3 linked regions of the Homo sapiens genome follow. Changing the gene in region 2 together with the main gene of any one other region gives a genetic interaction. Each region holds a gene or a part of one and is shown on either strand. Other genes may lie near its edges. The genes, in order: APBB1, NOTCH1 and HEY2.

The links.
Region 1: of NOTCH1 (region 2) and APBB1, changing one suppresses a phenotype caused by changing the other (phenotypic suppression), as found in Homo sapiens cells (one study listed by BioGRID).
Region 3: changes in NOTCH1 (region 2) and HEY2 together harm fitness more than expected from each alone (negative genetic interaction), as found in Homo sapiens cells (one study listed by BioGRID).

The regions. Positions count from the first base shown.
Region 1 is NC_000011.10:6,416,035-6,423,841, reverse strand, and holds the start of APBB1 (amyloid beta precursor protein binding family B member 1), read left to right. Parts: upstream 1-4,747; 5' UTR 4,748-4,857; intron 4,858-7,807. UniProt on the Homo sapiens protein: Transcription coregulator that can have both coactivator and corepressor functions. Adapter protein that forms a transcriptionally active complex with the gamma-secretase-derived amyloid precursor protein (APP) intracellular domain.
Region 2 is NC_000009.12:136,536,005-136,543,104, reverse strand, and holds part of NOTCH1 (neurogenic locus notch homolog protein 1 preproprotein), read left to right. Parts: intron 1-7,100. UniProt on the Homo sapiens protein: Functions as a receptor for membrane-bound ligands Jagged-1 (JAG1), Jagged-2 (JAG2) and Delta-1 (DLL1) to regulate cell-fate determination.
Region 3 is NC_000006.12:125,744,750-125,752,680, reverse strand, and holds the start of HEY2 (hairy/enhancer-of-split related with YRPW motif protein 2), read right to left. Parts: upstream 3,050-7,931; 5' UTR 2,905-3,049; coding exon 2,822-2,904; intron 2,812-2,821; exon of another isoform or gene 1,155-2,811; intron 881-1,154; coding exon 802-880; intron 675-801; coding exon 591-674; intron 1-590. UniProt on the Homo sapiens protein: Downstream effector of Notch signaling which may be required for cardiovascular development. Transcriptional repressor which binds preferentially to the canonical E box sequence 5'-CACGTG-3'.

The sequences.
Region 1 (7,807 bases), on a different chromosome or scaffold from region 2:
TCTTCCATGACATTACTCTCTCCTGATCCTTCTCTTACCCTTCTGCTAATTCTCAGCTTTCTTCTTGACTGTCTTTTTCTGTGCTGGCTCCTAAACACTGGCATTCCAGAGTTCAGTTCTCAGTCCTTTTCTCTTCTCACTCTATACTCTTCTAGGTAGTTGTTGGAATAGTCCTGTTGAACCAGGCTTGGTTGCTCACCCCTGTAATCCCAGCACTTTGTGAGACCAAAGTGGGAAGATTGCTTGAGTGCAGGAGTTCCTGACCTGCTGGGGCAACATAGTGAGACCCCCATCTCTTCATAATAAACAAACAAAAGAATAGTTCTGTTGAAGAAGGGTATTGGATTGAGAAAGTTTTTGCTAGGTCTTGAATTTGACTTAGGAATTCCACTTCATGTAGCATGTGGGAAGACTTTATTCCTTATAGATTTTCCAAATGAAAACCGCCATCAAGAAGAAAAGAGGTGTGTCAGATCAATCATAAGAAAATTTACAATACCAAAGCAGTACTTATATATAGTGGAGGATAAAGCTGCCTTCATTCCAGAAGTGTCTTTACTTTTAATAGAGATGAAAGCTCTATACTTTCATATAGGTGACTTGGGTGCCAACTGCCTAGTAATTCTAATTAGCTAGACTACCAAACCAAATAGCATAAAGCCACTACTCTTGGTAAATGACTCTAGATGGATTTGCTTATAATTCAATTTTTTCCTGATAGGTCCAAGGTAATAATTTTCAAAGTCTGCTGCCTCAGAGGAACCCACATTGGTCAGAACCAAATGCAGCATTTGAGGTGGCTCATAGGCTATTCATTGGTTGCTCCCACACCATAGAAAGCATCAGAAGAGGGAAGAGATTACAGTAGGGAAAGGATGGGTGAAAGGCACAGGTTGATTCCCCATTGGTCAGGAGACTTTGCAGACCTCAGAGGAGATCAGGAATTCAGGAAGATCGCCTGCGGGTCAAATACATAAGGAAAAAGATGCCCATGTGAACTGCACATGGGCATCCCTAGCTAATTAGAGTCCTCCCTTCAACCTCATCATGCAATCTATGTCCTTCTTACCTGAAGAGATTTCCCTGAATACTGCAGCCTTCCTGCTCAATGAGATTGGGAAGACAAATATTTTGGTGGGCTATCTGTAAATGGGTGATACTTCTGGATTTTTTTTTTCATTTTCTCAAAAATAAATCTAGATGTCATTTTTTAAATCTACAATTCCATAGCTAATCAACCAACTGATCACTGATTTCTGGGAATTCTACCTCTTGAATATTTATTAAACCTATGCAATTTTCTCCATCCCTAGTCCCACCACCAGAGTCCAAGCCATCATCATCTTTAACCTGGTCTCTTGCTTCCTAACTGGTCTATATTCTTCCAATTTTGCTTTCCACCTATCTATTCTTCCTCAGGAGCTGAAAGCGATCTTCTAAAATGCGAGTGTGAACATGCCCCTCTCCTGCTTCAAACCCTTCCATGATTTTCCATTGCCCTTAAAATAAAGGTCAAACCCTTAGCTCAGCATATAAGGCCCTCCTTGATCTGGCACTTTCCCACCTTCCTATTTCATCTTATGCCATTCTCCACTATCACAACTGTTAGGCTGTTCTTGTGTTGCTGTAAGTAAATACTTGAGACTGGGTAATTTATAAAGAAAAGAGGTTTAGGGCCAGGTGTGGTGGCTTATGCCTGTTATCCCAGCACTTTGGGAGGCCAAGGCGGGCGGATCACGAGGTCAGGAGATTGAGACCATCCTGGCTAACACGGTGAAACCCCATCTCTACTAAAAACACAAAAAATTAGCTGGGCATGGCAGTGGGTGCCTGTAGTCCCAGCTACTTGGGAGGCTGAGGCAGGAGAATGGTGTGAACCCGGGAGGCGGAGATTGCAGTGAGCCGAGATTGCGCCACTGCACTCCAGCCTGGGGGACAGAGCGAGACTCTGTCTCAAAAAAAAAAAAAAAAAAAGAAAAGAAAAGAGGTTTAATCGGCTCACAGTTCTGCAGGCTATACAGGAAACATAGCACCAGCATCTGCTTGGCTTCCAGGGGGTCCTCAGGAAGCTTTTACTCATGGCAGAAAGCAAAGTGGGAGCAGGCATCCCACATGGCTGATCAGAAGCAAGAGAGTGTGGGGGGAGAGGTGCCATACACTATTTATTTATTTATTTATTTATTTGAGATGGAGTTTCACTCTGCTGCCCAGGCTGGAGTGCAGTGGCGTGATCTCGGTTCACTGCAGCCTCCGCCTCCTGGGTTCAAGTAATTCTCCTGCCTCAGCCTTCCAAGTAGCTGGGACTACAGGTGCCCGCCACCATGCCCAGCTAATTTTTTTGTGTTTTTAATAGAGATGGGATTTCACCATGTGGACCAGGCTGTTCTCGAACTCCTGGTCTCAAGTTGATCTGCCCACCTTGGCCTCCCAAAGTGCTGGGATTACAGGCCTGAGCCACCACGCCTGGCCATGCCACACACTTTTAAATAACCGGATCTCACAAGAACTCACTCATCATGGGGAAGACAGCACCAAGCCATGAGAGATCCACCCCTACGACCTGAACACCTCCCACCAGACCCCACCTCCAGCATTGGGGATTACAATTCAACATGAGATTTGATCAGGGACAAATATCCAAACTATATCAACACCCATACTGACCTTCCTGTATTTCTCCTGCTACTTGGAATACTTTTCTCTTCTCCTGGCTGACCTCTAGCTCCTTCATCCCTTTCCCTCACTGAATTGTCACTTCCTATGAAAGCCTCCTAAACTTCCCAGGCCAAATTAAGCCCACTCACATAGCTCCCGGTACATCTCCTTCAAGACACTCATCACATTCCTAATTACATATTTAATGTCTCTTTCCCCTGTTAAATTTCAAGCTGTATGAGAGACGGAACTGTATCTTGTTTCTTGACCTGTTGCTAGCACCAAGGACAGTACCTCATACATAGTAATTATTTGATGAAAGAAAATGAATGAATGAATGAATGAGGACACTTTTGTTCTTCTGGGTAATTCTTCTTCATCTTTCAAGAACCCAGGTCAGATGTCATTTCCTCCAGGTGAGATGCAGTCAAATCTGATTCGTCTTTAGATCCCTAGGGCCTGGCTTGGGACCTGATACATGGTTCATATATCATAGGCATTTGTCAAATCATTATAAACTATTGGTTGTGAATTCATAATTGTTGAAACTGAATGATAGGTATATGAGGGTTCATTATATTGTTCTGTCTGCTTTAGTATATATTGGAAATTTGCCATAATAAAAAGTTAAAACATTTATATTTACCACAAGTAAAATAAAAGTATATTCAAAGATGACTTTGAAGCTTCTGGCTTGGGAAGCCAGTAGTTGGTGTCATTCATTGGAATGGATGGAATGGAGTTGTGTCCAGTGTGGGATGTGTGTTGTGTTGTGTGTGTTGAAGAGGGTTCTTTTTCACCCCAGTGAAACTCCTTAAAAGACTAATAAAGGGGGATGAAACAATAAATTGAGGCTGGACACTGTGTCTGACGCCTGTAATCTCAGCACTTTGGGAGGCCGAGGTGGGAGGATCGCTTGAACACAGGAGTTCCAGACCAGCCTGGGGAACACAGTGAGACCCCCTCTCTACTAAAATACAAAAAGCCAGGCGCGGTGGCACATGTCTGTGGCCCAGGTACTCCGGGGGCTGAGGCGGGAGGAATCTGAGCCCTGGAGGCTGAGGCTTCAGAGAGCCATGATCTTGCCCCTGGGTGACAGAGTGAGACCCTGCCTTGAAAGAAAGAACGAACTCAGATTTGGATATCTTTAGTTTTAGGCACCTGAGAGGGATTAGCATGTAGAGGCTTTCTGGATGGTAATATAACCTCTCATTATCCTTGATGGCCTCTGGGTCACTGATCTGACCATTGGGATGTATCCCACTATCCAGGGAGGGTCTGTAGTAAGTATTGCACCCCACCATCTTCCTTACATCTTTACACTTTTCATTCACAATATCCCCTTCCTTGTGAATTTCTACCGGGGAGCAATGTATTCTTGACATTTTCCAGGCCTTGATGTCAGCTTTATGCTCAGCAGCAGAGGTATTTCAGTGTCAAGAAACATCGGAGTTCCAGTCTAAATTCATCACTAACTGTGACTGCGGGCAAGTCGCTTTACCTCTCTTAATCTTAGCCTCAGCCTCTGAAAAATGAGGATAATAATTCTGGTGATTTTACAGAGCTGATGTGAAGATTAATGCGCGTTAACGGTTTAATAGAGAGCCCGGCACGGTGTAAGTGGTCAATAAATACGAGCTATTATTATGAGCAACGCTGTGTCCTCAGAGCCTCCCCACCAGGACGTCAGGGAGCGGTGCAGCAGGAGCGGCGCAGAGTGCCTCCCGGGAATCCTTCCCCGCGCGGCCGCGGCGCCGCACAGCCGCCGCCATTCGGGCTCCAGCCCCGTCCGCGCGTCTCCCGGCGTGGGTGCGGGACCAGGGCGCTGCGGGGCGCGCAGGGTGAGTCTGTGGAATAGTAGTGGAGGACGGCGCCGCGCTAGGCGGGGGTCCCAGGGAGTCGGCTGCAGGGGTGTCTGCTGGGAGGGCTGGACCGCGGGGCTCACCGAGGTCCGAGGGCCGCCCGCAGGGTGAGGCCCCCAAGAAGCTGCGGCAAGTGCCGCGCCCGCCGAGCTCGCTCCCGCGCCCGCCCCAAGATGGCGCCCCTCCCCCTCCCCTTGCGCGCGCCTCCGCCGCTCGGGGCGCGGCCCCGCGGCCCGCGCGCTCCTGGGCGGGGGATGTTGTGATGGAGAAGCCGCGGCGGAGCCCGAACCCCGCAGCCTGAGCCACCTCCGTCATCTGGGCCCGGGGCCTCACCGCGCAGGTAGGAGGTGTCCCTGCCCCGGCCCAGCCCCGGTGGCTGCGTCCCGATCACCAGCGGCCGGCGGACCCTGTAGCCCCTACCCTGCGGCAGCCCGGGTCCCCCGGCCGGCCCCATCCCCCATCCCCGGGTCGCCCTTCCACCGCGCGCCCGCAGACCGTCCTCTCATACCCACCATCGCAGGGTCCACTCGGGCCCTCACACCGTCCCTTCCGCTGCCCTTTACCTCCTGCCCCTCGGGGTGACTAGGGGCGGGTATGGAGGACGCGAAGCGAGGGGCAGTGGGTGTTGGGGGAGGGGAGGCCCAGGTCCGGGAAGGGGACGTGGGGTGGGGTGGGCTGGCAGGCCGCGCCGATTCCAGCAGGGGTCCCAGGCCCTGGATCTGTCAAGCCGCATTCTGTTGCCCTCAGCGACCGAGGGGTGTGCCCTGGGGCGGCTGTGTCCCCAGCTCAGCCAGGAGGCCTAGCACTGCCAAGAACACTGATTAGAAGCAGTTTTCCCACTGCCAATTCCTAACCTGTTTTGTATCGGCCTGTGTATCTCTTGCATTCTGAGCCCCTCTAGCTATAGTCCCAGCTCTCTCCGCCCTTCAGAGTCAACGCTTGCTGTCTTCATTTCCTTACTTCCCATTCATTCTTAAAAGCACTCCACTCTGTGTCCCTGACACCCACTGAAACTGTCTAGGCCAAGGTCACCGGAGACCTCCTTGTGGAGAACTCCAGTGGACACTGTTATCTCCTTTACCTTTGAGTAGTATTCGGTGGGGTATGTCAACTCACTCTCCTTGAAGCATTTTCCTGCTTTCTGCCCTACAGCATTGTCTGCTCTTCTCAATCTCATTTGCTTCCTCTCCTCCTCTCTTTAGATGCTGGTGAGGCTCTTGGCTCTGTCCCGAGCTGTCTTCTCTCAGTATCTGTTCTTTCTCCCCAGATATTTTATCTACTCCCAAAGCTTCAAATTTCATATATATGCTAATGATTCCCAAATTTATATATCCAGCCCAGACTTCTTTCCTGAAATCCAGACTCATATGTCCAGCTGCTCTCTTGACATCTCCTTGAAAGACAAACAGGAGTTCCAAACCTATAGATTCCAAGCTAAATTATCTTCTGTGGTTTTCTCTGTACCCCACTTCCAAATCTGTTCTTCCTTCGAATCTCAAAAATGGCTCTTTGCCAATCTGGAGTCATGAGCAAGACTTGAGATTAACCCCTCTCTCACTCTCTGCATCTCATTTCACCAAGTTCTGTCACATCCACTGCCTAAATATTTCTCAAATCCATTCATTTCGCTCTTTCCTCACTGCCACCAAAGTTAATCTGGGCCACCACCATTTTTTTTCCTTGACTACTTTAATAGCATACCCTCTTGCCTACCTCCCTTTAACTGTTCTCAACACAGTACCCAGAGTAATCCTTTGAAAAATGCTTCCAATCACTTATTCATGCAATAAATATGATTTCAGCACCTAATATATGCCAGGCACTGTGTTATGTCCTGAAGATATAATTGTGAGCAAAAGAGACTGAGTCCTTGGAGCTGACAATCTAGGAGAAAAATCAAATAAGAATAACATTACAAATGTAATATGTACCATGAAGAAAAGCTGTATGGTGCCTTGAGAACGCACAAGAGCAGTAGCTAAACTGGTCTCGGGGATAGGGAGAGAGGGTTGGAGGACAGCTTCTCTGAGAACATGACGTTTGAACTAAAATATAGTGGATGAGTAGAAGTTAATTCAGCTTAGAGAGTAGGAGAAGAGGTCCCAGGAAGCATGGAAATCACATGCAAACACCTTGTAGAAGGAAAACACATGTCTTCGAGGAATCAGAAGAAGGCTACTGAGGCTGCAGAGCAGTGTGACCAAAGCCAGGGGCAGGGAGGAGGAAGGCAGGCGCCAGACTGAGCAGGAAATTTAGGCCATGTTAAGAATTTGGTCTTAAGGGCCAGGCGTGATGGCTCACGCCTGTAATCCCAGCACTTTAGGAGGCCAAGGCGGGCGGATCACCTGAGGTCAGGAGTTCAGGACCGGCCTGGCCAACATGGCGAAACCCCATCTCTACTAAAAGTACACAAAAATTAGCCGGGCATGGTGGTGTGTGCCTGTAATCCCAGCTACTCAGGAGGCTGAGGCAGAAGAATCGCTTGAACCCGGGAGGCAGAGGTTGCAGTAAGCCGAGATCTTGCCACTGCACTGTAGCCTGGGTGACACAGCAGGACTCCATCGCAAAAAAAAAAAAAAGGGAATTTTGTCTTAAGGTCTTTGTCCTTGATGGTAGTGGATGTGGAGAGTAGATGAAGTCCAGAAATTTTTCTCAGAGAGGAAATCATCAGTACCTAGAGATGGATTGAACATAGCAAGTGCAGGAGAAGGACATGTCAAGATGTACCCCTACTTCAGATTCACAGAATAGGATGGATTCTATCATTCCATGAGCCGGGATCCTGAAAGAGGACCAGTTAGTGTGTGGGAGTGGGAAACATGAGTGGGTCTATTAGCTTGAGACATCCAAGTGGAGATGTTGAGTAGAAAGTTGAATGTACTTGTCTGGAGCTCAGGTGAGGGGTCTGAAATGGAGATTTGAATTGGGAAATCATCAGTGTATAACTGAAGCTGTGGGCATTAATGAATACTTATACTGATTATAGGATGAGAAAGAGGAAGGGGCATGAGAATAAGCCATAAGAAACTCCAGCAGGTAATGGCTAATAGAGGAAGATGAGCCAGCAGAGGAGTCTAGGAACCCAGCAAACAGTAACAAGAAGTGTAAAAGATGAGATGAGATGAGGAGTGTGGAGATGAGAGTGTGGAGGCCCCGGATAGAGGCTGGATGAGAGATTCACGGGGTCAGATGCTGCTGGGAGGACAACCAAGACGAGCACTGTGTCTGTTGGATTGAATGACACAGGGGTCATGTTGACCTTGGTAGGAGCTGTTACTGAGTCGTGTTGG
Region 2 (7,100 bases):
GTTTTGGCGTGGGGTGTGGGGTAATTATTGAGTCTGGTTTCTGTCCTGGCATCTGCAAACTCTGACCTCAAAATCCCGTGGCCCTTCTGGTCTGCCAGCCTCAGATGTAAAATGGGCACTGAGGGGGCCGGGAAGTCGTGCGGAACCGCTCCCTCCTGCCTGCCTGTGAGTGCCCATCAGCCGTGGGGAACTGTTCTGCTGTGGCCGATGCCCTTCAACTTGAGTCCATCCCTGATGAGAATAATGAGGAGGTGTTTGGTGTCTGGAAAAAGAGTTCCCTCCGCCCCCCAGGAGCTACAGATGAAGAAATGGCTCCCCAGCCAGTCTGCGCGCCCTCATTCCAACTGCAGAAGGTCCCATTCCCTTGACAACCCCAGCCCGGCTCCTGCCTGTGCCGACTGCCCAGCCTGTGGGCAGCAGGCCCCCTCCCTCCCCGGCCCCCACCCTCCCCAAACTGAAGCCAATTAAGCAGGTCTGTGAGCAGTTTAATGGACAAAGCCGATTGTGTCTTTGTCAGACACTAATGAATGCGCACTACTTTTTTTTTTTTTTTTTTTTTTGCTTTTTGGGGCCCCCTTCTCCCTCTGCAGAAGCCGCACGGACGCTTGATGCCCTAAATCTTGTTTCCTTTCATTCAGAGACCGACAGCTGGGATCCAGGGGAAGTGCAGCAGCTATTGTTGGGGGAGGCGGATTAATGCCGTGTGATTAATTATGCGTGGCTTCCCAGAATGTATAACCCCCTTCCCCGCCACTGCGCTCCCGGCTCGGACTTTGCCTCTCACCCATTCGGGGCTCTGGGAGAAGCTTCTTGCTCCTGCAGAGGACTTTGGGAGGGTGGGAGGAACACCGTGCTGGGAAAATTGGGGGCCTGTTGCTTCTTCTCAGTGGCACCAGGGAGTAGGCACAGCCTGGCCCACAGGGGTCTGGGACTGAGGTCTCCCTGGGCCAGAGCGCTGTGCTTTGGGGTACAGATTGCTGCAGCTCCCTGGTGTCTGGGTTAAAACCCTGCCACAGGGCCGCAAAACACTGGTGTCATGGGCCCACTTTCCCATTCCCCAAACCTGGGATCCCGGTGAGCTGTTTCCAGCCCAAGGCAGGCCGCCGACCATGGCTTTGGTGCCTGGCCTTGTCCCCTTTGCTGGGGCCTGGCGCCCCCTCCTTCTTGGCGGGAAGCCTGCTTCAGTTTGGCCTGACAGGCAGCCGAGCTCAGCCCACAGAGACCCCATTGTGCACACCCCACAAGTCCAACGAGAAGATGGGACGGAAGCGCGTCCTCAGGCTCCTGCTTCTGGGCCGCAGAGTTGGAGGCCAGGGCCACAGCCGAGCCCGGCTTGTGGAGGCACAGGTCAGGGCTCACACAGCAGTCTGGGGGACATTGCAGCCGCTTCGGAGAAGGCCCCGGGCTCCCTCCCTGGGCTTGAGCCCCACCCAACATACACCCCTCAGGTGCCTCTGCCTTCCCGTTCCTGCCCATCCTTCTCAGAAGGCCCAGGAGGTCTGTCCAGGAGTTAGCCAGGGCACCTGCAGGAGGCCTGGCTCCCCCAGCAAGGGGAGAAACCCACACTGTTTCTCGAAAGAGTCTGGGGTGCAGGCTCTTGGAGCCCTGCCAGCCTGAGTGGGAATCCTGGCCCCGTGGTATCCAGCTGTGACCCCGGAAAGAGCTTTGGCTTTTGGTGCCATTTGCTGCCTCCGCTGTAGAAGGGGCATGGTCATGATGGGCGTCACAGTGCCTGGCTCACTAGTACTGGGTGAATCATTTCTTTCCATCCCAAAGAGAAGGAACCTTCACCGGAAGCTGCCAATCAGGTGGTTGCAGGGCCCGGGATTGGAAAAAGTGGTTTTGTTGGTGCAAAATGCCTTCCCAGGAGGTCAGAGTGTCGCCGTGGCCTGGTCAGCCAGTGGCCAGGTAGAAAGCACCTGGCAGCACATGCTGGTGGGCGGAGGATGGTTGGTCTCTGGGCAGCTGCTGTGCGAGGTGTGGCCGTGGTGGCTGTGGTCGGAGATGGTGGCCTTCTGAGCAGGCCCAGGGGGTCACTGTGGCCCTTGGCTCTTCTCTAGCCCCCTCATCAGCTCCGTCAGTGTGAGCAAGGGGTACTGAAGAGGGCTCCACCTTTTTTCTCTTTGTTTTGAGGAGAGCTGGGAAGAGCTGCAGGGACCCTATCTGTCTGGGTGAGACTACGTCCTTGGTCTGAAACGCTCTCCCAGGGCTGCCTGCGTCTGGGCTGGGCGTTGAGGCAGGGGGCAGCTAAGATGTTGGCTGCTGACGGCAGAGTCAGAATGGCACGGGGCGTCTTCCAGGAGCTGGGAGAAATGGGGGTAGGCTGTCACACCCAGCACCTCCAGGAGGATGTCCAGCTGCCTGCTGGGTGGTGCGCTTTAGCTTTGGACAACCTCGTGTCTGAGGCCTGGCCTGGCCACTAGCTCTGTGACCTTGGGTCATCAGGTCATGCAAGCCTCAGTTTCCCCAGCATGTCAGCCGGGCTGATACACGCTGGATCTCTTGGTGGTGTGTGAGGATTGCATGAGAACCGTGTGGAGAGGGCACCTGGTCAGCGCTCCTTTCTTCCCCGCCTTCTCCCCGTTGGCTGACAGTGCTGGTTTCCAGAGCCTCCTTCCTGAATGTTTAATTGATTGACGAGTGAATTCAGAGAATCCTAAAGGTGCTGCCTGGTGGGCTGGGCCTGGCACTGCCTGGGGAGGGACTTGCCGGCTCTGGGGAAGTCCATCTCCCAGGATGGCTCCAGCTCCGGGGAAGTCCATCTCCCAGGGTGGCTCCAGTTCACAGACACGTTTGAGCGCCTGCTGTGTGCTGCGTTCTGCTCCAGGCCAGGCCCCCGGTGGGGACAGGGCAGACATGGCCCCTGCTCCTGTGGAGTTCACTTCCCAGCAAGGCGTGAGAGAGGCACCTAGCTCACATGTGGGACATGTTGGGGGTGTGCCGGCCCGGTGGTGGCCTGGCATAGCTCCCGGCAGCCCCGTAAAGCTGTCTGGATCAGGCACCGATAAGTGAGAAGAAGAGACCCAGAGAAGTCGCCATCAGCCCCAGGGTCACACAGCAGTGGCAGAATTCCTACTAGCCCTGCCCCTCTCCTTCTCCCAAGCGAATGTCCCTAAACACAGCCCCAGCCAGCCTGAGCTGCCCCGTCATTTCCCGACTACAAGCGGACTGGGGGCGTGGCTTCCCCTTAAAAGAAGAGGAAGGAGGCTCAGGCGGGAAGTGACTTGGCCCTGCAGCCGGCCTGGGAGGCTGGGGAGGGACGGGGTAGCTCCTGTCACCCGGTCTGGCTCTTTCCATTGAGTCACCTGCCTCGTCTTGGGCGTGGCCAGGGGAGGAACAGGTTGATTCTCCTCCTCATGCTGAGCTGAGCGGAAAGGCCTGTGACAGGACCTCCTGTTTATGCAGAACCTGGTCTTCAAGGGCGCCAGGGTTAGAAAAACATGTTTAAAAACATGCAGCATCCGAGGTGGGCAGATCACCTGAGGTCAGGAGTTCAAGACCAGCCTGGCCAACATGGCGAAACCCCCGTCTCTACTAAAAATACAAAAATTACCCAGGCGCAGTGGCGTGTGCCTGTAATCCCAGCTACTTGGGAAGCTGAGGCAGGAGGATCCTTTGAACCCAGGAGACGGAGGCTGCAGTGAGCTGAGATCGTGCCACTGCACTCCAGCCTGGGTGACAAAGTGAGACTCTGTCTCAAAAAAACAAAAAACAACAAAAAAAACCCCACACAGTGTCAAATAGAAAGTCTCACCTACTCAGACTGGGGAGACATCAGGAACAGGAAGGCCTGGGGCGGAGACTGGGGTGGGAGCCTGGAGTGCTCTGAAGGAAGCTGGCTCCTTGGGGCAGGCCCTGCCTCTGAACAGCAGCCAACATGTTTTCCATTGAAAAGAATAATAATAGAAAAAGAGAGAGGGAGAAAGAAAACAGCAACCCTGGCAGGAAGAGGGTAGGGCAGGGCAGACAGTGCACCAGGGGAAGTGCTTCCACAGGGCAGAGCTGGGTGCGGGGACCCCCAGATGCGGGCGGCAAACTGGAGACCCCACAGGAGCCGGGACTGGCTTCATTCCTCATTCCCTGCACCTGTGATGGGCAGCAGCGGCCACCGGTGCCCACTGGGCAGTTCCAGGCCGGGCCGAGGGACTGCACCCTTTTGCTGTGGGGAGGGGACCTTTCCTGTTTCATGTCTCGTCTATAAATAGTGAAAGGATGTGGCTTTGCAGAATCGATTGGGCGTCTAGCTTGCCTTCCTCAATAATGCAGCGATGACAGCTCCACACTCAGGACGCCGCTGTTACCCAGCCTCGTAAAAGCCCTGGCAGACGGCCGCCCACCCTCCAGGTGTGCCAGTGCAGTTTTCATCCCCAGCGCACAGGTGGGAAAGCTGTGGCTGCGAGGGCGTGGGGATCTGAGGCAGGCTGGCGTCAGCTTTCACCTTCATGTGCAGGCATATCCAGAACTTTCCGGATCTTTCCCCGGGCTGAGGAGGAAATACCAGCAGCTTTAACGAGCGGCTGGCTTTGGGGCATCACACCTGTGGGCCGGGCTGCGTTTGACGGCCTCGAGTTTCCCAGGCAGCGCTGGCGCTTTCTCCTGTGGGGCCCGGAGCTCCGAGGGGCTGTGAAGCAGGGCTGGCTCTGATTTGCTGTGCTCCCCACACTGTCCCCTCCCTGGGCCTCAGTTTCCCCATCTGTATGTGATTCCCCTTCCAACTACAGCCAGCGGGACCCTGGGGCGGGCTGAAGGCGTGGTGGTGGCTGTGGGCCCTGCGGCGAGGCCTGCGCTGGGCTCGGTGGTCGCCCCAGCTGGGGAAGGGGCAGTGGCTGCAGGGGTGGGAGGGTGGAGGGAAGCCCTTTTCCAAAGTTGCCTGGTTGGGTTCTCCTTGTGGCCCTGCCCCACCCCACCCTGCTCCCTGGGAGCAAAGGGAGCTAAGGACTGGTTTGGGGATGGATATGTATATGGAGGGATTCTGGGTGATGACTTATTCATATTACAAAATTTGCCTTTTTTTGTTTGTTTTTTGAGATGGAGTCTTGCTTTGTCACCCAGACTGGATTAGAGTGACGCAGTCTTGGCTCACTGTAACCTCTGCCTCCCAGATTCACGCGATGCTCCTGAGTAGCTGGGACTACAGGCACATACCACCACTCCCAGCTAATTTTTGTATTCTTAGTAGGGGCAGGGTTTCACCATATTGGTCAGGCTGGTCTCAAACTCCTAACCTCAGGTGATCCACCTGCCTTGGCCTCTCAAAGTGCTGGGATTACAGGCGTGAGCCACTGTGCATGGCCACTTTTTTGTTTTTTGAGATGGGGTCTCACCCTGTCACACAGGCTGGAGTGAAGTGGTGGGATCACGGCTGACTGCAGCCTCAAACTCCTGGGCTCAAGCGATCCTCCTGCCTCCGCCTCCAGAGTAGCTGGGACCACAGGTGTGCACCACCATGCCTAGCTAATTTTAAATTTTTTTGCAGAAGCGGGGTCTTGCTATGTTGTCCAGGCTGAAAATGTGACTTTTGAACTAAAGCATGCTGTTGCTTGACATCTAGTCCATTCACAAGTTCATTCAACCACTATCTAGTTCCGGGACTTTCTCACTGCACAAAACAGAAACTGTACCCAAATACTGTCACTCTGCCCTGACTGCCCCAGCCCCTGGCAACCACTAACCCGCTTTCTGCCTCTGAATTCGCCTCTTCTGGACGTTGCCTATGAATGGAATTGTGCCATAGGTGGTCTTTTGCCCCTGGCTTCTTTCACTGAGCGTGATGTGTTTAAGGTTCATCCATGTCACGCGTGGACTAGAACTGCATTCTTCTGAGGACTACATTTTAGCCTCCAGAAGCATCAGGGACTGGCCAGAGGTGGACCCCAGCATCCCAGCTCCCAGACAGTCCAGAGGAGGCAGGTGTTGGGAGGGCGTCCGGGGTGGCTTCCTGGAAGAGATGGCGCTCACTCTGGGCCGGTGCAGCCACCCGACAGCCACAGAGCCCCCTAGAGGGAGTCCTGGCATATTCCCAGGTGAACCTGTAGGATGGACTGGCGTGCCCGCGGCCCCTGTCCTGCTCAGGACTCCGAGACAGGCTCACAACCTGTCCCTGGGCCTCACTCATGCCAGCCGCCAAGCTGTTCAGCATCCCTTAGCCCCCAGGAGGCACACAGTGGGGCCGCGGTCACTGAGCGTCCACACGCCTGGTGCTGTAAGAATGCAAAGTAGAGGGTCTTTATTGAGCATCTACTACATGCTGAACCCTGGGGTATGGGTGGGCACGGCAGATGCAGGCCCCCCTGGGCAGGGGAGGAGCATGCCCCTTAAGAACCAGGCCACAGGATGGACGGGCTTGGCCACAAGCTAGGGGTAGTCACTGCAGCCTTCATGGCCTCCTGTGTGCAAAGTCAGTGCTGTGGGACCCCATCTGGGTGCACCTGCTGTGGCTTTCAAGTGAGGCCCACCACGGAGCAGCTTCCACGCTGGCTGGGACAGGGTCAGCGGCAGGGAGCTCCAGACCAAAGGAGCGGCGGTGGCTGGGGCAGCGGGGGGCAGTGAGGCTTTGGACACATCCATGGGGCGGGCAGGCATCTCAGCCCCCACCCGCCCAGTCTGCCTGCTCCGGGGCCTTCCCTTCCCTGGACAGAGCTCTGTGTGATTGGCTCCAGGCTGCTTCTCCCCCTGGACCCTCAGGGTCAGCTTAGAGTGACTGGCTATGCCCTGGCCTAGATCCAGGCCCGTGTGACAGGAGAGAGCTAGGAACCTGGCCCCTCACTCTGAGACACAGATGGTGTCCTCTCCAAGTTGCCCTTGGGACGGGGAAGCGCCATGTCCCCTGCAGGGCACCAGGCCAGCCAGTGGCCCTTGACAGCGAGGCCCTGTCTGCAGGCAGCTGGGGGACTTCTCCCTGTCGGGAGGATGCGTGCGTGTTAGCATCGGGGTGCCTGGTTGCCCCAGGGGTGGTGCAGGGCGGTTATAGGCGGTCCTAGCATTTTGGGGTTGCTTTCAGTGTATCTCCGAGACCTGTGGAATTCTGGGAGGAGAAACTCCCCAGCAGTGTCCTCAGTGCGCCCCCCTACCCTGTACCCGTTGCTCCTGGGAGGGATCCT
Region 3 (7,931 bases), on a different chromosome or scaffold from region 2:
TAACTATGAAAAGGGGCATTTATGATTAACTTCATTTTTACCAAACTTCTAAAAAGATGACCCAAATCAAATGGCATTCTACCAACCCAGGGATTAAAAATGAAAGCAAATGGCTTGGTAAATAAATTTTAGTGGTATTATCATTTAGGAAATAGAGCTAGAGATGTTACTTCTTGGGCTCTGATTGTTTTTTAATTAAAAATATTACATTTTAAAAAAATTTTGAGAAAAAAATGGTTTTTTTTTTTTTTTTGAAGGATACGGTATACAGCACAGTTTTAAATAAAACCACTACTGGTATTCATAGAAAGAACAGAGAAAGCATGAACACTGTTACCCTTAAGGGGAAAATAAGCTAAAGAATGGAAATGTTTTTCAACTTCATGATGGATTATGTTTTTAATAGTTTTGCCACAACAAAGCATTTTATTGAAATAGCTGCTCTGTGCCAGATCAGGGCACATACACTATTATTTTAATGAGCTTTAACAAGAACCCACATTCCCAGATGAGCGAATCAGATTGTGTTTGAGCTTTTTTTTGGGGGGTGGCGGGGTGGGTGGGGGGATTCTGGGGAGGGGATAGCTTACTTGTTTTTCAAAAGCAGTTGGCACAAGTCTTCTCAACTCAGATAAACTGTTATTTATCCGATCCCGACGCCTTTTCTCTATAATCTATCCAAAAGAAGCAAACAACAAAAGTTTATGAATTCACAAATGATAAAATTACTCAAATGAAAAAATGTAACTGTTACACAATAGTATAAGTTACATGAAATAAAAAGGGGGAAAAATCACATACCCCTCTCCTTTTCTTTCTTGCCATAATCTGAGATGTTGTTGTTGGAGAATTCAATCTAATCACAGAGCTAGTACTTTGCCTATGAAATAAGAAGAGTATGTCAGGTGCTGCATTAACATAACAATAGTTTCTTCTGGGTACTTGTGGCACCCATTAAATATTCAGAGTGATTGCACAGTTCAAGTCTGTGTTATTTTATTCTTAGTTCTTGTTTCACTCTTAACGGACTTTGCTTTCAGCCCGGCTGTCTCTTTTCAGGTAAAAATTACGCCTTAATTTGTAATCCAGATGCTAACCCATTGGCCAAAATGTCCCACAATTTTTACTTGAAAGTCTCCCAGTGAAATAATTACCGGCAGTTGGGCTGAGAAGTTAGATATTAGCATTTCCTAGTTCCACTCATATATTTTAAAGTCAACTAATCTCAAATAGCTTTCCTTCTCCCTCCTGTCAGGCACACTGAACAAAATAATGCCACTTTTTCAAATCAGGGTTATGTTAAGCACCACTATCAAACAGATGTGCAGTCGTCATACGTCAAACTCTTGTCTCTAGGTGCAAACTTTAAAATAAATAGAAGTTATCTTACTGTTTCAAAACTTCAGTTAGTCATATATTGCAACAGGAAAAAATTGACAAACTTGATGTTTTGCATACTAATCTTCCAAAAATATGCCCTAAATATGCCACTGATAGGAAAATTAAAACTCATTTTATTACTAGGTGAATGTTTTACTTTGAAAATGAAACTGTAGGTGTGTCTCAGACTTTAGGCTAAGCTTAAATCTCCAGAAGCTGCAATGCACCTTGGATTTACTAATGAAAATATATTTTTATATTGAAGGTTCAATCAAAGTATTATTTGGTCACATAATTTTTACAATCCTTTCTAGTTTGTATCTGTTTCTCTTCATAATTCATGGATACTATGCTTCTTTGTGTTCTCAAATTCCCCAGGTTCCTGTTATTTGTTCTCTTTCATTTTAGAAATGCTGCACACACCAGGTTGCTATTACCTCACCTTCTCACTTCTGGATCTTATTTCTGAATTACCTGTCCCCCTCATTTTCACCCCTTCTTTACGGGTTTCACCTTTCACGTGATAGCTTCTGTTTTTCAGACCTCATTTTTAAAGACGGCACAACAACACTTTAATGATCAGATACTTAAACCTTTGCTTTCGTGTAAATATCTTTGCTCTTGCAGATTTTGTGCTTTGCTTTGTATGTATTAGAATAACAATATGAAAGAAAACCAGTTTTCCAAAGGTAGGAAGAATTTCCCTCTTTGAGTGACAGCTGCAGATAAATAATTAAGGTGCTTCTGGGGATGCCAATTAGAAGCAATTATCATTTGACCCGCCTTGGCTCTAAAATGCCTCGGTAATCTCCCTCTGTCACAGGAAAGTGGAGGTCTGGCTTCTGTGATTACGACGCCGATCTCTTCCAGACTTGAGAACAAGCAGTCAAAGAAATGATGCCCTTTCCGATGCTTACATCTGTCACTCACTCTTGCGTTAGCCAAGTCACACACGGTCAACCTGCAAAGTTCAACCTACGTAGCCTTGACATCGCAGGTTGCTTTAATTCCTCCAAAAATCAAGTTGTGATTTTGGTATCTCTAAAAATCAAAAATCAAATTGTTTTTATTTTCTCCTGATCTATTTTGAAAGTGCCCCCAAATACGGTTTCAGTGGCTGGGACATCGCCTGTCGCCCAGACGCTGCCGTTCGCGCGTCCAACTGTGACAGCCAGGACCCTCCCTCGCCAACTCCTGCGCTCTGCCTTTCAGTGGCGTCTCCCATCCTGGCTACTCCACCCCTACGGTGAAAATCCACATCCCTTGCCCCATCCCAACTCACGCTCTGCGAGCGCCCACCACTCAAACTTTCTCAGGCCAAACTTTCCCTCTCTACCTAGATGCTGCGGAGACCAGCCTCGGGATTTCCAGGGAGCCACGCATTCACAAAGCTACCCCAAGCTCCCGAGCTGCGGGCCGCTCCCGCGGAGCCCGCGCTCACCCCGAGTAATTGTTCTCGCTCCCCACGTCGATGGTCTCGTCCATGTCGCTCTCGGAGGTCGTCTCCTCGCAGGGGCGCTTCATCCCGGCGAAGACCGCGCGGGGCACAGCCCGGCCGGAAGCTCGGACGCCGAGCGGGGCGCAGCACCCTGACGCCCGCCTCCTCCCTCCCCGGGCCTGGGCAGGCGCGGCTCCGGCGGCGGCGCGGTCTGCTCCTAGCGGCTCTTTCCCACGCCGCAACTCTGCTCGGCCGCAAGAGCCGGCGCCGGCCACGCCCCCCCCTCGAGCGGGTGGGGCCACCTCACCCGCCCCCGCGCACCGGCCCAGGCCTTCCGCCCGGCACCTCCCCCTCGCTGGTCGGCGTGGCTCGCGATTGGCTGGGCCAGGGGGCGGGGCCGCGCTCGCCAATGCCCGCCGCAAGGCTCCAGCCGAGGCGTGGGAACGCGGCCGCGGACCTGGTACCCCAGAGCAGCGAGCGGGTGGGGAGCAGCCGGGGCGAGAATGAGCGCAATCTTGCTAACCCCTGCGGAGGGAGCGCGCGGGCGCCAACGCGGGCGCGCGGGGGCGGGCCCTGGACCTGGACCTTGGGTTTCGGCCCTCCTCCGCGCCCCGCGGTCTCGCGGGCGAAGTTTCAGTCCTGAGTGTAAAGAATAACCCCAAGCGCGTGGCTAAGTGCGAGCAGGCGCGTGTGACGTCGGGAGGCGCCGCGGCTCCTCGGCCGCCCCACTCGGTGGTCCCCTGTCTGGATCCAAACTGCTGACTGGCTGACCCGAGTGGTCACATTTGCCCTCTGGGGCTTTTGAAAACCTTAAATCAAAATTGCTTTTGAATCTGACAACTCCTGAGGCTACTTTCGCGGCCTCGGGGCTGTTTCATATAAGGACGCGAGTTTTCCTGATCAGGTCTGTCGGCCACGTTACGATTTCCAATTTGCGATCCATCAGTTACTTCCATTGGGTCTTCAGCCCCCAGGGACTGTGGATCCTAGACCCCGCGGAGAAGCCCGTGGACTGGAGCTGTGTCAGCTCTGATGGTAGGAAAGACTAGATCAATGACGCGGGCATTTCAGGACATAATCGTATATTTTCAAGTTCGAGTTTTTCGGGCTTGGATTATCCAGATAATTGCCTCCAGTCTCCTCCAGTCCCCCTGGTGTATGCACTCGCAGCCGCAGAGTTAGAGTCCGGGAGGTGAAGATTGGCGCTTGGAAATTAGATTTGGTTTCTAAAGTATGAATTCGTGTCCAACAGTTCGTGCCTTGGACAACGTGGGTTGTATAAAACTCAAGCTGTGTGTTTAAAACAGGTTTTCTAGCTGCTGGTTCTCTCCAAGTTATGTAGGACTTTTGAACTGGCCACCCCGCTGTGCGTCTGCGAGGGCAGGGACTGAGCGAGACCCAGCCAGGGGCGCCGGGAGACTGGCGGCGGCTGGGTTGGGGTCCAGCCGGAAACCACACGTTGGCAGGGCCGCTTGGTCAGTAGTGGAGAGAGCCTCTGAGAAAGGGCCGTCTATCGATCCCCAGACCCCTCCGTCACGGAGGGATTCATAGCTTCCTGGGGATCGGCCCAGGGCGTCCCTTTGACACTCCGTTCTCTGTCCACACAAGCCCGGCGCGGGGCGGGGAGAAGAGGAAAGGACGCGACTGGGAAAGACGGGACCCTGGCGGGGTTTGGCCCGGGGGAGAGCGGGAAGGAGCCCGGTCGGCGCGGAGGACCTGCGGCCAGCGTGCTAAGCCCTTATTAGAACAGAAACCCCTTTCCCCCCACACTCTCATCTCTTTTGCGCGGTCCCCACCGCCATGCCTTCAATAACCTTGTGAATAGAAACCCGAATCGTTCCATCTTGGCTTCTGAAACTTAACCCCAGGCAAAGCACACACTCGGCGGGGCCAGGTGGGGCTGGATGGGGTCCGCGCCCGACGGCGGGGCCGCGGGGGTCGGTGAACCCCAGCTCCCCTGTCGGCCTCAGGGCGGATGGCTGGGTCGGCGCGGGGTTCGGGGCCTCCGATCGGCTGCACGAGGGCGGGCCAGGACCCAGACCCCGTCCCCGCTCCGGCCCCGCAATCCAGCGGGTGACGAGCCTGACGCGCGCCGGTCGCCTGCCACCTCCCGCCCCGAGCGCCCTGGGCCAGTACCTCCCGGCCGCAGGTGAACGCTCCGCGGCCCGCCAGGCTCAAGCTCGACCGTCACAACTTTCCGTGAGGGCTGCACGTTTTTCTGAATTCAAATGCCTGCAGGTGCAACTCATGTTTGCCACACGGGCAATTAGCGGGCGCGTCCAAACGCCTGAGGCAAAACCTGAGATCATCACTGAAAAAAAAAAATCTAACAGTTCTTTGCCACTATACTAGTGTATTTAATTATGATTGCGAAAAATTGCAGAGGGAAACGATTTGCTGGCAATTAAGTAGCAACTGGTTAAAGTTTTTTTTCAATTTGTCTTTGAAGACAACTGCTGTACTATGTATAAAGAAGAGTATAGCAGGGAAGTTCGAAAGCACACACGGAATTTTAAATCTGTTAAAAATATTTTTTAAGCAAAGAAGGTGGTATTTTAAAAGCATTTAAAACAGCGCCTGGTATATAGTAAGCGCCATAGAAGTCTGTTAAGAATGCATAGGGCAAGAGAGCTCAGGGTTTTGAACGCTATCAAAATAATATGCTTATTTATCTGCAAAACACAATAGCAATTAGGCAGCACGAGATTTCCCCATTAGGTCGTTTATTCTCCTCAGCTGTTTATTCCATTTGCCTGTCCCTTGGTTGAGCGCCTTGTCTGTCTATAACCGAAAGTGCGTTTCGGGTCAGAGAGACAGAAACAGACACAGGAAACCCTTTAAAGCGCCCCCGCCGACTTAAATACGGTAGTGGATTGGAGGTGGGGAGGTGTAGGGGAGGCGTTATGTGGAGAGAAAGAAAAGAGAAAGAATGAGGGAACGGCGGGATTTCAAGCCTCCCCGCCCTTCTGCGACAACCTTTTCAGCGAAAGGGAAGGCTTAGGAAGAAAAGATGTCCGCGCGTAGAGCAAACCGCAGTTCTTTCCTTTCTTTTTGAAGGATTTGTACCATGAGTTAATTACACCAAAAGATACGAGGGACTTTATTAGAAAGGAGATGCCGTTAGGAAAGAAAGGCCAGGACGGCCGATCTAAAGGGAATGGAGAAGGGAAGACTCAGACGCCCTCCCGAAATTGGTGGTCTAGCCTGTGTTTTGTGCTAAATGTTATTTAACTTAATGGCGTGGGAGTGAGATGTTGAATGCAGAGATCTGGAAATACCAGATTTAGTGGTCCTGTTCCTCCTCCCCGACTCTTTTCACACCCATTTAATAAAAAGTTACAGTTTTTACACCCGTATTGATAAATTTGGCGATGTTGGCCAAGTATTATCTCGCCCCGCAGATTTTGAATTTTGTTGCACAAACCGATGAAATGATTGCTTTGCTATAATTGTAAAACTTTTTTGGAACGAACCTGGATTTTTTTTATGCCTCTTCATCTACTTTTTGCTTCATTAGAGCCCTCTGGTTTTCCAAGATCGACTGTCACACTTTGTTATTTGTTGCTTCTCTAAATCCTTTGAGATGCTGCTCGCAGCTACGTAAAAAACGTTGGCCACTCAGGTATTTGATGGGCTTAGAAAGTCACCAAGATGTGACACCATTTAAAAGTTTTAGCTTGGTTTCTCAGTGAAATAAGGGCATCTCTGTTAATTAGAAAACTTTGTGTTAGTCTGAGATGCCTAAGAGCATAGTCCAAATTGAAAATTCCAATATTTTGCCACATCTGAAATATAATTATTTACACAGCCTTCTCTTTCAAAGGGAGGACAAACAGGTTGCCTTGAGAAGAGCTATTCTATTTGCAATTGCTGGGGCAGGTGACAAACACGTGTGTATCTGTGGGCAGCCTTGTTGGGCTGCCTTCCCTGACTACAAGGCTTTTGTGAGCTGGTAACGCCTTAAAATGTGTGAGAATGCTGCGCCCTAGGAGTGGAGGCCAAGGGCAAGATCCTTGTACATTTCAATACCTTTTCCAACATCAGGCTGGCAGCAGGCAGGCCAACCTAGGGTCACTGTGTGACACATATTTGCAAGCCAGTAAAGCAAAACAAAGCTGAAAGCAAGTGCAAATTTAGGCCCACCAACCTTGAAGTCATCCCTGAAAGGGAGCTGCTTTACTAGTTAATTTTTCTTGCCCAGTCAGCCACACAAAATGCATTGTATTTCTTGGCTTGCCCCAGTAATTGCGACTTACTTGTTACAGCAGAAGCTTCAAGGTAGGAAATCTATGACCCAAAGCTCTCTCTCGAAAGTTAGAATGTTTAAACTGATCTTTAAAACTGTTGTTGAGGGGCAATTTATTTAAAAGCTTTTATTTTATGGTGTTGTTAGTGCTTAGCATGCCTCAGGATAAAGACTAGTTTTATTGCAGGACCCTTGAGAAGAGGGGTGTATAGCAAGTAACCAGTTTTCCGTGTGCCAGTAAGCAACAGTGAGAACACTCAGTGTATTAGCTTAACTTTTTGTGGGAGTTAAATTGATGTTGGCAGGCTTTGCCTTTAAGGAAGTTCTTTTAAATTTCCATTTTCTTGAAGTTGGTTTGATTGGCAGATTTCCCCCCTCTCTTAAGGATACAATGAAACATATTCACTTCTCTTATGAAAATATTCTTTTAATAAACTACATTCCCATCCCCTAGAAAAATGCCCAGCACACAGTAGGGGTACAATAAATGGTTTCAGATTAATTTCTTGTTAAAATTAATGAACTCTCTGCTTCTTTACTTGTATATGTAGAATTTACACTCATTGGAATAATAAAATAGAAGTAAGCAACCGTGCATTAAAAAGCTATGAAAAGATGAAGAGAATATGCCTTCAAATGGGAAGGAATACTTAACTGTGAATAAGACCTAGTTCAACATGGAACTTCCTGGTGGCCAAGTCAGAAGAGAAGCACAGTGAGTTTTCTAACTTTCATAATGAGAAAAGAGAAAGCACACTGTTTTTCAAAAAAGAAAGTTATTACCCAGTCACTGAATTCTAAAAGAACTTCATGCTTGCCTTGTTCATGGACTTCAAATAATTTAATTATTTAAAATAATTATTTTGT